4 linked regions of the Homo sapiens genome follow. The protein of the gene in region 1 purifies or fractionates together with the protein of each later gene. This does not show direct contact. Each region holds a gene or a part of one and is shown in the gene's direction. Other genes may lie near its edges.

What was found. Proteins that work in one complex are often made in the same cells at the same time.
Region 2: the proteins of TMEM72 (region 1) and PEX3 purify together in Homo sapiens (affinity purification with mass spectrometry; one large-scale study listed by BioGRID and IntAct). This does not show direct contact.
Region 3: the proteins of TMEM72 (region 1) and ATP1A3 purify together in Homo sapiens (affinity purification with mass spectrometry; one large-scale study listed by BioGRID and IntAct). This does not show direct contact.
Region 4: the proteins of TMEM72 (region 1) and SLC25A15 purify together in Homo sapiens (affinity purification with mass spectrometry; one large-scale study listed by BioGRID and IntAct). This does not show direct contact.

The regions. Positions count from the first base shown.
Region 1 is NC_000010.11:44,930,079-44,935,336, forward strand, and holds part of TMEM72 (transmembrane protein 72), read left to right. Parts: intron 1-1,919; coding exon 1,920-1,991; intron 1,992-3,558; coding exon 3,559-3,698; intron 3,699-4,577; coding exon 4,578-5,056; 3' UTR 5,057-5,258.
Region 2 is NC_000006.12:143,485,305-143,488,804, forward strand, and holds part of PEX3 (peroxisomal biogenesis factor 3), read left to right. Parts: intron 1-3,500. UniProt on the Homo sapiens protein: Involved in peroxisome biosynthesis and integrity. Assembles membrane vesicles before the matrix proteins are translocated. As a docking factor for PEX19, is necessary for the import of peroxisomal membrane proteins in the peroxisomes.
Region 3 is NC_000019.10:41,987,731-41,991,230, reverse strand, and holds part of ATP1A3 (sodium/potassium-transporting ATPase subunit alpha-3), read left to right. Parts: intron 1-2,629; coding exon of another isoform or gene 2,630-2,668; coding exon 2,669-2,755; intron 2,756-2,853; coding exon 2,854-2,913; intron 2,914-3,091; coding exon 3,092-3,295; intron 3,296-3,500. UniProt on the Homo sapiens protein: This is the catalytic component of the active enzyme, which catalyzes the hydrolysis of ATP coupled with the exchange of sodium and potassium ions across the plasma membrane.
Region 4 is NC_000013.11:40,788,401-40,792,410, forward strand, and holds the start of SLC25A15 (mitochondrial ornithine transporter 1), read left to right. Parts: upstream 1-1,210; 5' UTR 1,211-1,263; intron 1,264-4,010.

The DNA.
Region 1 (5,258 bases):
AGAACCCTGTTTTGTCTCTGTTTTGAGGGGACCCTATGCCCATGTGGTCTCTGGGTGGTCCAGTCCAGCCTGGGGTCCCCTGCCCCTTGCTGTGCCCTGTTCTCTAACACCTGCAGGATCAGCACTCAGTACCTGCCCTGTCTGTCCCTCCCTGCCACTCAATAGCACCAGACAGGAAGTCTGAATGAGTCGCTTTATTCCCCAAGCCTTGATATACCCCTCTGTCCCAGGGCATAGAAAAAGGCAGTGGCAATTATTTTGCAAAACACGTCTTGATGTGCCTGTTAGGCACACAAGCTCTGGAGCCTGCGTGCTAGGTTCTGATCTTCCCCCTGCTACTGATAAGGGGCCATTGGTGATGGGGCAAACCTCTCTGTGCCTTAGTTTCCTCATCGGTAAACTGACAGTAATTATAGTGTTTATTATAATATAATATAGTACTTATTATAAAATTGTTGCAAGGACTAAATGAGTTGATATTTGTAAGGCCTTTAGAATTATGCCTGGCCCATAGCAATCATTACATAAATGTTAGTTATTATCATTTTAAAACCAAGGGGTAAGAGTTAGGCTCACACTGGGAGGCATAGAGACTGAGAGGAGTGGAGATCACTAAATGATCTAACTAATCACAGGGAGAGAGAAATGATAACTAGAATTGATATAATCACTGTGTGCCAAGCATGGTCCTAAGTGCTTTACAAATATCATTTAATTCTTAGAACAGTTTTACTGTTGATGCACTATAATAACCCCAGTTTACAGCTGAGGAAACTAAGACAGAGAAAGGTCACACCTCTCACCTGTGATCACACAATCTAGAAACACCCATGGCTCTGAGGAAACCCTGACCCCAAGCCACCTTCTGCACAACACTATCCACTTTCATTCCTTCATTTATTGCAATGCTCATTAATGGAGCCCAATAAGCCCGACCCACTGTGAGCCTGGGCTGTACAGAAGAATTAGACAGGGAACGCCCTCTGGGGGTTCACAGACTAGTGACTCTGGTCATATGGTACCACATGGAGAAGTAAGAGGAGGTCACCAGACAGACTGGAGAGGGAAGGGGAAGGCCTTCCAGGAAAAGCTCACTTGTGCAAAAGCCCTGTGGCACCTGATAGCTTCTTGTGTTGTCAAGGGAACATGGAGGATAGGCAGTGAGACCCTCCGTAAGTACATATTCCATTTCCAAGGATTCTGATGTGAGTCTAGGGGTGGCCTGGGAGCCATGAATTCTACACATTCCTCAGGAGATGCTGATTGCAGGATCCATGGACCACACTGGGAGCACAAGGAGCCTTTGAGGCATCCTGTATCAGGAGGAACATGATCAGATTCAGGTGTCAGGCAGCCCAGAGTGACACAGTGGGGGAGCAGGAGACAGGCCTGGGGTAAGTGAGGAAGTGGAACTGGTGCAGGGGTCCAGGGGGCAGGGCCTGAACCCAGGCAATGCCCATGAGGTCAGAGAACAGGAGCGATTTGGAAGGTATTGAAGGAATGTAATCAACAGCTCCTGGTGACTATTTGGATAATAGGAAAAGGAAGAAGGAAAGGGTCAGGAACAGGTCCAGGTTTAAGGCTGGAACACAGGCAGTGGGTGTCCATCCTGGTGACCAGCAGGTAGAAGGATGTGCCTGCCAGTGTCACACAGGGTGCCAGGTGAAGGCCATGTCACCTGCTGGCCACGGTGCCCTCCCCACCCATCTCTGAACCCCAGACCCCACCTCTCCCCAGCATGGCCCAGTCCGGAACACGCCATGTCCTGGAGACAGCCCGTGGTGAATGTTGTCTGGGGGAATCCAGGTGAGTCCATTGGCTGTAGATGTGATGTCAGGAGGCCACGTGTGAGAAGACAGCCCTCAGGAAAGCAAAGGAAGACAGAGGCGCCAGCCTCCCTCACCTGTCTCCACCTGCAGGTTTACAGGAGCCGCTGTCTCCATATGTGAAGGGGCCTACTTTGTGGCTCAGCTGCTGGCCATCTGCTTCCAGTAAGTAGTTTCCAGAGAGACCCCTCCATTGTCCACCCCAGCCCCAGACACCACAGATGTCTCCACCCAAGAGCCCACAACCAGGGGATGTCCTGCTCCTGAAGCCACTGTGGACAGGAGCCCCCCACCGAGGTACAATCAGCCTGGCCTGGAGGTGGGCACAGGCCCAAGGGGCTCCATTGCCTTCTTTGCCCTGGTCCCAACCAAGAGAACCAACTGACACAGTCATTCAGGGCCTGTCCTTGCCCAGAATCCCCAGAAAAGTCCAGCTCCCCCTCACCAGGAGCAGCCAGTCACTGGGCCCCAGTGTCTGAGCCATCTGCCATGGGGTGAGGACCCTGCAGAAGGCCCAGCTGGGAGTGAGCAGACCTGGGTTTGGGAACTGGCTCTGTCTCTTCCTAGGGCCCGGGGGCAAGTCAGGGGCAGTATGTCTCTACACCCCTTCGTGGGGCAGGAGTGCAGACCCTGCAGGATCTCGTGAGGCCCTTGCTGCTTCCCAGCCTACACTCAGTATGTGGAAGCTGTTATCGGTGAGACCGAGGACTGCGGCTCTCAGAACCTAGACACTGGTCCCTGGGTGGTCAGTGAGAGAGCCAGTCTTCAGATCCAGATGTCCCAGCACCTTGCAAGGCCACTGGCTGCCTCTCAGGCTCACCAGCCCTAAGGCAGAAAGCTTTCCCCTTTCTGCTGAATTCCACTGCCAAGCTGTGCTTGAAACTTCAGCTGGGGAGAAGGCTGGGGAGGAATGGACCCTGGATGGACTCCACCGCACCCTGCCACCACACACACGCAGGAATGGGCACCAGGGGGCACCAGTGAGCCATGGCAGTCCAGCCTGCGAGCATAAGAGAGCAGTGCTTTGGGCCACCTGGACAGCCTGAGCACTCCCTCAAAGCTAGAGGGGCAGGATGTGGCTGTGTAGAGCCCCAGCTCTAGGCCAATTCAGAGGATGGAGGCGCTGGGTCTAAAGGCAGGCACTTGCCCCCTGTGAAACATGGAGGCAGCGCCCCTGAAGGAAGCTGCTCAGCATCAGGCTTCTGCCAGGGCTATGTGTGGTCCCTGTGTATACAGTTAGAAAAGAAGCCCTTCTGGGCCAACACTGTACTGTGCCTAAGCAAGGCTGGGTGAACAGGGCACAGCTGGGTGCCAGCCTGCTCACTCACCTGGCCAAGCCTCTTATGCAGTGCACTACAAGCACAACTGTCCCAGGCAGGTGGCTCCCAAACTGCACACTTTCTCTGCATTAGTGCAGACTTCCCAGTGAGCCCTGAGCCTCCAGCTGTCTTCCTCACTAACTCATGCAGCATCCTGAGAACATTTAACTTGCTTCCCCTTCGACCAGAAAAACAGGTCTGGGCAGCCTTTCAAAAACTTGTGGACCCTCTAGAGGGACTCAGGCAAATCCACTCATTGTGGAACCCACACCAAGGACCGCTAGGGCTTTCTGTTCAGCCAGGGCCCACTGCAGAGCATGCCCACAGCAGGGCCTGGCCCAGACTCCATGGCATCCAGTCTTGCTGGGGTTTTCCTGGGACACATTATGCTAACCTGGACTCCCTCTCCCCAGGTGTCAACCAGGGTCCCTGGCAGACAGAGTAAGGGAGAAAGCCCACTGGCTGGGCTGCTTCCAGAAGTTCCTGGCCTACCTGCTGCTGTCGGTGGCCTGCTTCCTCCACCCGGTCCTGGTCTGGCACGTGACCATCCCAGGTAAGAGCACAGGGGTAGAGATATGCAGCCCCAGCACAGGTGGACTCTGAGCAGGAGGAGCTGAGCCCCTCAAAGTCTAGCTCCAGTGGTGGCTCCAGGGACCTTACCTGCCCCACTGCCCTCTCTGACCTAGAGGGTGGACATGAGGAATCATCGGAATGCCAGACATACTCCATGCTGATCAAATGGCAGGAATGTCCCAAGAAGTGCATCCTTCCTTCACAGAGCCGTACAGAAGTGGAACCGCAAAGGGGACCTCACCTTTCCTCCCACTGACCATGTGTGGTCTGAGCTTCCCAAGGGTGTGACATGGCCACTTCCCTGCCCAAACCCTTCTGAATCTCCCCAGTGCCTACTCATTCAGGTCCAAACTCCTCAGCCTGGTTTGAAAGGCACTTCAGGGTGGGACCCCAGAAAATCTTCACAGCCTCATCTCCTACTTCCACTTCACGGGTGCATACCACTGGCCAGCTGGTTTCTGGTCAGAGAACCCAGGATTTCTTGCTCCCACCTTTTCAGTTTCATCCACGACCTTTTCTGCTAGTGTCCTTCTCCTCTCTGCTCCCTATCTGTGAAAACTGTGCCCCCTCCTCATGAACCCATCTACAATACAGGGAAGACAGCCCTCCAGGGAGACCATGTTGAAAAGCAGAGCCTCCATCCTTCCTGCCATTTAGCATCCCCATCCCAGCCTCCAAGTGGACCCCCAAATCTGATGTGGGGTGTGAGGACAAGCCAGGCAAGAGGGCCAGGGCCACAGGGGCCTGTGAATGGCCACACAGCGCCGGGTTGCAGGAGCTCTGCTGCACGACATGCTTGCAAGGACTCCGGATTTTTTCCGTGACTCCTCTAGAGCCCTGACCTCTGGCTCTTTTCCAGGCTCCATGCTCATCATCACCGGCCTGGCCTACTTCCTTCTGAGCAAGCGGAAGAAGAGGAAAGCTGCCCCCGAGGTGCTGGCCTCCCCAGAGCAGTACACAGACCCCTCTAGCAGCGCTGTGAGCACCACCGGCTCTGGGGACACAGAGCAAACCTACACTTTCCATGGGGCCCTCAAGGAGGGGCCCAGCTCCCTTTTCATCCACATGAAGAGTATCCTGAAGGGGACTAAGAAGCCCAGTGCCCTCCAGCCCCCCAACACCCTGATGGAGCTGAGCCTGGAGCCAGCCGACTCCCTGGCCAAGAAGAAGCAGGTGCACTTTGAAGACAACTTGGTCCGCATAGTCCCCTCCCTCGCCGAAGGTCTGGATGATGGGGACAGTGAGCCAGAGGAGACCACCTCTGACACGACACCCATCATTCCCCCTCCCCAGGCCCCACTCTTCCTGTCATCTCTTACAGCCACCGGCCTGTTCTGAGCGCTTGCTCCAGCCTGGAGGACGCTCAGTGAGGGGTCTACCTAGCTCAATGGCCCTCCCTGGAGTTTCAGGGTCTTCTCTGGTCAGCTTTTCAAGGGGTAACCAGACACCCCCACACTGGCTGGGCCCCTGAGGCCATCAGGAGGTGTGACTGGCCAGCATTTCTGGAGAGGCCTCGAGGGAGGCACAAACAAGGCTCACG
Region 2 (3,500 bases), on another chromosome or scaffold:
ATGTTTGTCTAACATAAAGTTACATTCTCTGCTGAGAGGTTTTTTCAAAAAATCACAGAACTTGGAACTACATGTAGAGTATGGTAGAGTGTCCCATGAGAGTAATAACGGACCATAGCAAATGTGTAAGTTTGGAGTACCTTTCTCCGTGTTGTAGTCCAACACTGTGGGACTACATTTTAGTCCAGGTGTATTATAGTGGTCAGTTGAATTTATATAGCATGAATGTTTGCATTAAGCTGTGCTAGTAAGAAGATTGATCCTTGGGGCAGATCAAGGATCCTGTTCTACACATTTTGAGGAAAACTAAAAAAATTTGTGGAGAAGTAAAGCATTTTAGTGATTAATAAAATGTAACAGTTAATAGTGCATCAATAATATGCTCACTAAAAGCCACATAAACAGTGGGTCATTTAAATGTTTTATCAGACTACCTATAACTCCATCTTATTTCTTCATTTCCATTTGGAATGCATGGAGTAATTCAGTAATTCATTGAGTAATTCAGTAATTCATTGAGTAAGACAAATATTATAAACAAAATAACTTTGAATTTCTGAGTCATGTGCAAACTTGGAAACTGTGTTATAAGTTAAAAAATTGTTTGCAATGCCAGTTGCAAACTGCTTCAATAATGTACAATGAGAAGAGACCCTATGGCCTAAGCATAAAGCTGACATCTTCTTAGTGTAACTTGTCTCAGACAATTTAGTGTATCCTCTCTGTAGACTTTTTACTCTTGGGAACGTGGAGAGCACTGAGACTAAGAGTTCGTTTCCTCCTTTCACTGTGGTGTCATCAGCCTGTCCTTCACATGCACATTTTCCCACACTGGACTCTTCAGTCTTCTGTCCTCTTTCTCACCCCTAAGAGCTTGGCACTCATATTGCAGAAGAAATAGTGAATAAGACTGATCTCATTTTACTGAATGTTAAGCTTCACATCTATATCAATGTGAGAAAAAGGTCATAACTTGGGGCATTTAAACCTTACCTTTACCTTTGTCCTCTTCTGTAGAAGTCCCTGGCTTGGCCAGTAGGCTGTTCATTTTGACAGATGAGTGGAAATTACAACCAAGCATAAAGCATCATCAGCCTTAATGCTTAAATAATTTTATGCACTACACTTTAATTAAAATCGATATAATTGATAATAAAAACAAATGTTTCAATATGGTAAAAACGCCATTGATACTAATGTTTAGTAAAGTTTTTTACTGTAACTGGATGTATATTAAATGTATATACTAGACCATTGATTGACAAGGCTATTACAATTATAGTTTAATTTTTTAAACTATAATTTCTATGAGTTAAAATACCAAGTGGTCTTCTTAATAAATTGTCATATGCTTTACTATTTCCACTTATCTTTTTATAAAGCCTTTGCCTTGATTAGAATGCTAATTTACATAAAATTAGTCCTTTCGAATTACTGCTACTACTTCAACTACAATGGTGTGTAGGAGAGCCTATGGTGGGAATGCTGTAGAACAGGGGTTTGGCAAACTGTACAGGGCCAGATAGTACATACTTTAGGCTTAATGCAACATACATTCTCTACAGAAACTATTCAACTCTGCTCTGGCAGTGTGAAAGCAGTCAGAAACGTACATGAACAAAAGAGTATGGCTGTTTCAACAAAACTTTATATACAAAAACAGGCGGCAGTGGATTTGGCCTGCAGGCCATACTTTGCTGACCCCTTTGGTAGAAGATATTAGGATGGTAGTTGGTAAAGGTAGGAAATGGGAGAATCAGAAAACAATCGAGAAAGGTGGTTTTTCAAATTATTTTCAAATAGCTTTCAAATAACATAAGCAGGAGATAAATTATTTCAGATTGCTTTCAGATAACATAAGGAAAGAGCTTTTATAGTGTGAACCAACCCTATGATACATAATTTTTATCTCAGACTACTGAAACATCCTAGAAGCTGCATCAGGATACAGTATTTGAACAGATTAAAGTCTTTATTATAAAGCTGATATAAGTTAGCTATGACCTATGAGCCAAATCCAGCCAAGCACCAGCTTTTGTAAGTTTTATTGGGTGACAGCATGCCCATTGGTTTATGTGTTGTTTATGGCTGCTTTTGCACTACAATGGTAGTATTTCTCAGATTTGTCCATACACCTCACATACATATGTACACACATATACCACAGTCCTCCAGTGTTTAAATCATTTTTAGTGTATAAATTAAAAACTCAATAAGATCCTTAAGATTAGAGCTTTTTCGTAACTCAAAACCAAAGCACTTTTATTGTCAAGTAGAATCTAAATTACAAAAAAAGATTGTTCTATAATATGGCTGACGTCTACTATTAATAATTTGTTGTGCCAAAGTGAATGTGGACCTGTCTGCTACTGTTCATGCTGTTGAGCATTCAGCCTGCATTTTCTGAAGCTGACTTGCTAGTATTTTTTTTTTTATCTACTGTAACTATTCTGAAAGCTTCATTTGTATCATGTGTTTTACATGATTTGGTCTTCATTTGAAAGATTTTCTGCCTCTGTTCTTCTCTCATTAGCACAAGACAGTTAAAGTAATGTTACTTAAAGCCAATAAGAACATAAATATAAACAAATGCCCTAAAATCAGGAACAATAGTAGGTTATATATTTTATCTTCTCAATAATCAAGAGCGTGTTTGAGTTTTCTTTACATTTTCATAGAAATCAAAACACAAAATTTCCCCTCAAATTCTTGGGCCCCTGAAAGTATGTCTGTAAATTCTGGTTTGAGAAACATTGATCTAAACCTATGTTTCATTGAACACCTAGACTGAATACTTGAAACTAAATAACATCAAATTCTCTGATGAGATAATTTAACCATGAATTGATTGAGATTAGGACATGTCTAAACCTCACTTGGATTTTCCGATACTTAAGAAACAGAGATCACTAGGGACAGGTTTACTTCCCATTTCTTTGACACTCTCAGAGGCTGTCAACCTTTTCTATCATGGACCCTTTCACAGACTGGTGAAGCCTATGGACCCCTTCTCAGAACAATATTTATAAGTGCATACAATAAAATACATAATATTATAAAGGAAACCAATCATATATAGTTTTCAAAATTTCTTTTAAAATTAAGTGTATGATATAGCGGTATTGCTTCTTTATTCATGCATTAAATACCAAGATATAATGAGAGTTCTGATAACTTCCACAACTGTCATATGACATGAAAATGCCTATGATTTCTATTGAAGACAAAGTCATACAACCTGCTAATATTATCACAGTTTGTTGCCTACATTCATAATTGAAAGAGATACCAGATTTTGGTTAGAAGTTAAAGAAAATGAAGGTGTAATTTTTTTCTTATCTTCACATTCGCAAATCCCTTGGGGTGTTAATAACCCTTACACTATAGTGTATATGTGTGGTTCATGTATGTGTGTATATGTAAAATATGCACTTACTACACATATTCATACCGTATGTTAGATCTTCTAGAAAGTAATACACCCTTAACCGTGTTATGTC
Region 3 (3,500 bases), on another chromosome or scaffold:
GGAGATTAGCGCTGAGCCGCGCTGAGCCTCCGATCCCAGCTTGGCCCTGGGCCTGCGGGACCTGTCAGCGGCCCCTGCAGCACCCAGCCTCGCCCCACCCCTCCCACCAGCCTCGGACACTGCCCTCCCCATCCGCCCAGGCTCCCAAACTGGAACTTCAGGGACTCACACCATGCGCAGTTCAAGCCAGGACTAGGGCTTCTGCCTCTAACTCTCCTGCTCTGTCCTCCAGGAACCTGGCCATGCCCAGCCTCTGTTAAGGACGCTCCATGGGCCCAACACATGGAAGATCCCAGAGAGAGGCAGAGACAGAGATAGAGGAAGGTACCAGAGGGAGACAGTGAGAGAGACAGAGACAGAGAGACATAGACAGAGATAGAGAGGCAGATTCCAGAGACAGAGAGAGGAGATCTCAGAGAGACAGAAATAGAGAATAAGATCCCAGAGAGAAAGTGAGAGAAAGAGACAGAGAGAGAGAGGAAGATCCCAGAGACAGACAGCGAAAGAGAGAGGAAGATCCTACAAAAAGAGACAGATATATATATATATATATATGGACAGAGAGAGAGAGAAAGAGAGAGAGAGATTGAGGAGAGCCCAGAGAGAGACAGTGGGAGAAAGAGAGACAGAGAGGAAAATTCCAGGATGAGGTAGTAAGAGAGAGAAAGAGAATGAGAGATATATGGGGAAGGAGGGGGACGGAAGATTTGAGAGAGACAGAGAGAGGGAGAGAGAGAAAGAGAATGAGAGATATATGGGGAAGGAGGGGGACGGAAGATTTGAGAGAGACAGAGAGAGGGAGAGAGAGAAAGAGAATGAGAGATATATGGGGAAGGAGGGGGACGGAAGATTTGAGAGAGACAGAGAGAGGGAGAGAGAGAGAGAGAAAGAGAAAGAGAGGAGATCTTAGTGATAGTGAGAGAGAAAGAGAGATTCAGAGATAGAGAGGAGATCCCAGAGAGAGAGAGTGGGAGAGAGACAGAGATAGGCAGATCCCAGAGAGAGATATTAGAGAGACAGAGAGAGAGACAGAGAGAGGTTGAAACAGGAAAAGAGACAGGTAGGGAGAGATGTGAGCATCCCAGAGGAGACAGCTTGAGAGATGAAGATAGAGACACAATGACAGAGAGAGACAGACCGAAAGACGGAAAAAGACAGAGACAGAAAGTACTGATCCTTGAGACGCCAACTCAGAGGGAAATAAGAACCCAGAGAGACAGAAACTCAGCCAGACCTGGGGAGACACAGCCAAGAGATGGAGACAGACATCATGCAAGGCAGAGAGACAAAGAACCAGAGATCAGAGAGAGACAAAATCATAGAAAGACACATGCAGAGAGACCCAGAGACTGGGATCAGGATAGAGAATGACAGAGACAACATAAAGAGATCAGAGCGATAGAGAGAGAGAGAGAGCTATCAAGAGAGAGAAACAGCCTTGCAAAGACAGAGATACAGAGATGGAGAGATAAAGAGACAGGAGACAGAGAGATGATGAAACAAAGCAATAAGACCAAGAGCCAAAAACAGACCTGGAGATACACATCAAGGGAGACAGACAGAGGAGAAAGAGATGGAGATACACGTGGAGACATAGAAAAGACAGATACGAGGCCGGGCACGGTGGCTCACGCCTGTAATCCCAGCACTTTGGGAGGCCGAGACGGGCGGATCACGAGGTCAGGAGATTGCGACCATCCTGGCTAACACAGTGAAACCCTGTCTCTACTAAAAATACAAAAAAATGAGCCGGGCGTAGTGGCGGGCGCCTGTAGTCCCAGCTACTCGGGAGGCTGAGGCAGGAGAATGGCGTGAACCTGGGAGGCGGAGCTTGCAGTGAGCTGAGATCATGCCACTGCACTCCAGCCTAGGCGACTAAGCGAGACTCCGTCTCAAAAAAAAAAAAAAAAAAAAGACAGATATGTAGGAAGGTTGGACAGGGCCAGGGAGAGGGAAGAAGAGACAGAAGCAGAGTTAAAATGTCACATAGAGGTGGGGCACGGTGGCTTATTCCTATAATCCCAACAGTTTGGGAGGCTAAAGCAGGAGGATCGCTTGAGTCCAGGAGTTAGAGACCAGCCTGGGCAGTGTAGTGAGACCCCATTTCTAGAAAAAAATTAAAAATTAGCCGGGCGTGGTGGCACACACCTGTAGTCCCAGCTACACAGGAGGCGGAGGCGGGAGGATCACCTGAGCCTCAGAAGTCGAGGCTGCAGTGAGCTGTGATTGCTGCACTCCAGCCTGGGCATCAGAGTGAGACATTGTTTCAAAAAACGAAAACAAAGTCACATAGACACAGAACACAAAAGGGGAGAGCCCCGCAAAGATGGGCACAGAAACAGAGAGAGACTGAAACACAGGCAGAAGCCAGACAGGGACCTTCGGGGACAGAGACTCAGAGACACACAGAACCAGAGACAGGGAAGCTGATTGCAGCAGATGAGACTCACGAGGCCTGAGAGTCACCAGAGGCAGAAGGGAGGTGAAGTCACCCAGAGGCTCCGGGAGACACAGGGAGACCCCGAGAGGCAGACAGAGACCCCCCACCCAGAGATGCAGGGGCACCGGCCAGGAGGATAGCTGGGGCATGGAGGGCCGGTGTCCTCCTGGAACCCCTTCTCGCCCGCAGTCTGGTGGCTCTGACAGCTATCGTATCGCCACCTCGCAGGACAAGAAAGATGACAAGGACTCACCCAAGAAGAACAAGGGCAAGGAGCGCCGGGACCTGGATGACCTCAAGAAGGAGGTGGCTATGGTAAGCCTCGCCCTCTGCCCGCACACCCTCCCAGAGAACCTCGCCAGTTCTTGGCTGGCCTAGGCACTCACCGTCTCCCCCAAACTCCTGTTCCTCAGACAGAGCACAAGATGTCAGTGGAAGAGGTCTGCCGGAAATACAACACAGACTGTGTGCAGGTGTGGCCAGGCTGTGGGCTGGGACCCTGGGAACTAGGGAGGAGGAGCTGGGGGCTAGGACCCCTGGGTCTGAGGGAGGAGGGGCTGTGGCTGGTGTCTTAAGTTCTGGGGGTCTGGTGAAGGCCTGGGGTGCCAGGGTTGCCCAGGGAGGGTTCTGTGTGAGTCCTCTGTCCCTCAGGGTTTGACCCACAGCAAAGCCCAGGAGATCCTGGCCCGGGATGGGCCTAACGCACTCACGCCACCGCCTACCACCCCAGAGTGGGTCAAGTTTTGCCGGCAGCTCTTCGGGGGCTTCTCCATCCTGCTGTGGATCGGGGCTATCCTCTGCTTCCTGGCCTACGGTATCCAGGCGGGCACCGAGGACGACCCCTCTGGTGACAACGTGAGTGCCTGGACCCTGCCCTGTGCAAGGCTCTGCACATTTATTTACGGACACCGCACCCCAACTTCTTCCCATCCCTCTAAGCTTTTCACAGCCCACTCTCCCCCTTTTTCCCATCTAACTCACAATCACCCAGCAAGAGAACCAGATCAAATACAAGGCAAACTGAGGCTCAGAAAAGCCAGGCTACTTGTCCAAGGCCCCA
Region 4 (4,010 bases), on another chromosome or scaffold:
CAGTGAGCTGAGATTGCACCATTGCACTCCAGCTCGGGTGACAGAGTGAGACTCTGTCTCAAAAAAAAAAAGAAAAAAAAAGAAAAAAATAATAATCCAACAGCACATCTAAACAAGGCTTAAAGTTGTAAAATAAAATTACACTGTGTGGAGGGTGTGTGTGTGTGTGTGTGTGTGTGTGTGTGGGTGAGAGAGAGAGAGAGAGAGAGATGAGGTCTCTGTCATCCAGGCTGGAGTGCAACAGTGCCATCATAGCTCACTGCGGCCTCCAATTCCTGGCCTCAAGCGATCCTCCCGCCTTGGCCTCCCAAATAGCTAAGAATAGAGGCATGTGTCACCACACCTTTTTTTTTTTGTCGTTGTTTGTTTGTTTTTATGAAACGGAGTCTCGCTGTGTAGCCCAGGCTGGAGTGTAGTGATGCAATCTTGGCTCACTGCAACCTTCACCTCCCAGATTCAAGCGATTCTCCTGCCTCAGCCTCCCTAGTAGCTGGGGTTACAGACACGCACCACCACGCTGGATAAATTTTTGTAATTTTAGTACACGGGGTTTCACCATGTTGGCCAGGCTGGTCTTGGACTCCTGACCTCAGGTGATCCGCCTACCTCGGCCTCCCACAGTGCTGGGATTACAGGCGTGAGCCACCATGCCCGGCTAATTCCTGTATTTTCATACTTAGTTGTATTTCCTATTAGGGCCTTGGATCCCGAGTATAATTTTGTACTCAAATATAATTTATAAATAAGGCCTTAGCCTCCCAACAAGGTCAAAGTAGCTAAAAAGTAAGTCCTCCCAACCACTGACATTACCAGCCCCCAGCCCCCAGTCCCAGCCCAGCGGGCTAACAAGGGTCCGGCCTCAGAGAGGGTCTCGGGGATCCCAGAGGTGGGAAAGTCTCCGGAGGCGCAGGCCCCGCTCTCCACCTTCACCAGGGTCGGCGGCAGCACCACGCCGGGTCGCGGGCTGGCTGTGCGCGCCGCGGCCCCACGCCCACTTCCGCTTCCCGTGCTGGGGGCGGTGGCAGGGCCGGTGGGCGGTGGCGGCTCCCGGTCTCGGCTCGGGCACGGCCCTGGGCAGGCCGCCCGCCAGCCGCAGGGGCGCTCCTGAGCTTCGCGGGGCCGCAGTCCGGGATGCCTGCGCGAAGGGAGGGGCGAAGGGCCGGCCGTTGCCGACGTGGGTGTTAAGTGGCCGCCCCAGCCGGCGACCCGGAGCCGAGAGCGGGCGGCGGAGCCTGAGCTGGACGCGGCCACGCCGGCGCGGCGGTGAGCGCAGCCCGGTCTGGCGCCTGCAGCTGCGGGGAGCGCGCCAGGCAGAGGGAGCGGGGAGCGGGGCGCGGGGCGGGCCTCGGTGTGCGGGCGGCGTGACCTTCCCGAGCGGCGGGGGAAGCGGCCAGCGTCGCAGCGCACGTGCCGCGGGACTCGGAGAATCTCGGGGTTGTCGGCCTCCTTCCTGCAGTGCCCACCTGGTGGGAACTTTTGTCCTTGTTTGCCCCCAAGTCCTGTCATTTGGCTGCGGGGCTCCGCGCCTCAGGGGCGCCAGTGCTGGGCAGCATGGAGCCGCTTGTGAATGGAGACTTGCTGGCTGCCCAGGAGTGGGCGGCTGGGCAGGGGCGGTGAACGTTTAGGGTCCGGCCAAGAAAGTTGGAAGTCGTCTCCCTGACCTGTTCCTTGCGAGGCCCGGGAGGAGACGCGCCTGGCCGGTCCTTGGCGGCGAAACTGATTTGCATCTCCACGCTTTACCTAAAGCCCGGGCTCTGGGGACTGGATGGCGAGCTGGCCTGCGGCTCCTTTAGCCAGAAGCTGGGATCTTCCCGCAGCAGTTCGTGTTCCCTGGTGGAAAATGCAGCCTCATCTACTGACTCTCCCTTCCAAAAAAAAGTTATTTTCCCCAAGGGTCGAGAAAAGTGGGTGGTCGGCACTGTTGTTCCTCAGTTGCACCCTGGTGTAATTTGAGAGAGGGGTCAAAGGCGCTGAAAAGATTCTTTTTTCTATTCCAAGTGCTACAGCAAGCTCATAAATCAATTTTAATTCATGCTGAACAGTCTTGCCTCCTCCAAGCCCTGTGTCTTCTCCAAGCCAGAGCTACACATAATGTGAATTAGCTGCCCACTCCTTCTGAGTGAATCTGTTAGTACCCATCATCGTTTTCTATCCTAATAATTCTAATGGCTATTTGTAGAATTTATTTGTTTGTTTATTTTTTTGAGACGGAGTTTCGCTCTTGTTGCCCAGGCTGGAGTGCAATGGGGCGATCTCGGCTCACCGCAACCTCCGCCTCCTGGGTTCAAGCTATTCTCCTCCCTCAGCCTCCCGAGTAGCTGGGATTACAAGCATGGCCCACCACGCCAGGCTAATTTTGTATTTTTAATAGAGACGGGGGTTTCTCATGTTGGTCAGGCTGGTCTCGAACTCCCGACCTCAGGTGATCCGCCCGCCTTGGCCTCCCAAAGTGCTGGGATTACAGGCGTGAGCCACTGTGCCTGGCCTATTTGTAGAATTTAATGTGTTTAAGTTTGGCTCACCTAACAGGGTTTAATTCTTAGGGACAGATAGAATGTAATGTGATGTGACTTTCCTTCAAAATTAAGAAGGAAGTGTCTGTGCCAAAAGAAATAAGCGCATTGAGGTTTATCTAGGAGGCCACATTGTACTTGCCTCTGTCTGTCTGCTCAGTTGCCCCCGTTTTTTTCTTTCCCAAAAATATAGGGTTGGGTGTTTTGTGTTGCCTTTGGCCAGGTTGAAATACTCAGATTAACGGTTGGTTTGTAGGCACAGGCCTGAAAAGACAGGACTTTGAACTGAATCCTCTGTCACTGACAGTTGTGTGGCCTTGGAGAAGACCTTGTCTTGCTCCAGGCTTTAGTTTGCCTTCTGGGAAAGGATTAGGACCCTGATAAACTTTTTATTTATTTATTTATTTATTTATTTATTTATTTTATTTTTTATTTTCTATTATTATTATTATTTTTTTTTTTGAGACAGAGTCTCACTTTGTTGCCCAGGCTGGAGTCCAGTGGCACAATCTCGGCTCACTGCAACCTCCACCTCCCGGGTTCAAGTGAATCTTCTGCCTCAGCCTCCTGAGTAGCTGGGACTACAGGTGTGCATCACCACGCTGGGGTCATTTTTGTATTTTAAGTAGAGACAGGGTTACACCATATTCGTCAAGCTGGTCTCAAACTCCTGACCTCGTGATCCTCCCACCTCAGCCGGCCCAAAGTGCTGGGATTACAGGCGTGAGCCACCGCGCCTGGCCAGGACCCTGATAAACTTTTTTAGGAAGATACCAGATGGCCACCACCTTTTCAGCCTAGTGAATGGTCCTGTCTCTCCAGACCTATCAACAGCATATAAATCAGTGTCTTGCACTTCTAACTTAGTTGCTTTATTAAGTAATGTGCCGTTGTTGCCACTGGTTTTAAATTTTTTGTGAATAAAGGAGGATTATTGAAGTCTCGTCGTTGGCAAGATGCTTCAAGAGGTTTAAACAACTTCTCCACGGCCAATGTTTCCTGTTGACGTTCAGGGTGACATTGGTGTTAGGAGCGTGCTTGGTGTTCATCTCTGATCCAGCACGATGGGTCACACGGCTCCTCAGTGTGATGAGGAATAAGTTGTTCCTTATTATTTGCAAATAAGTTACTAACACCGTTTGAAAACTGTACAGGATTGGTCGTTGAGTTGGATATTTTAGTCAACATTTATTAAGCCCATGCCTCAACAGTAGTTGACTTTTGTCTAAAGAGAGAGAAAGAAATTCTAGTTTTCCCAAATGCCCAAGGCTCCAACCAAAACATACTGAATCCAGATTTCCAGAGGAAAGTCCTGGCAATTTGGATATTTAATAAGTGCTCCAGGTTATCAAGTGGATTTGGACACAACGGCCCAGGTGTTGTATCTCAAAGTGTGAGTCTGTGGACTGGCACTGTCCGCCTCACTTGGGAACTCATCAGAACAGGCAGAACCTCTGGTCCTGTCCAAGGCTACTGAATCAGAGGCCGCATTTTATT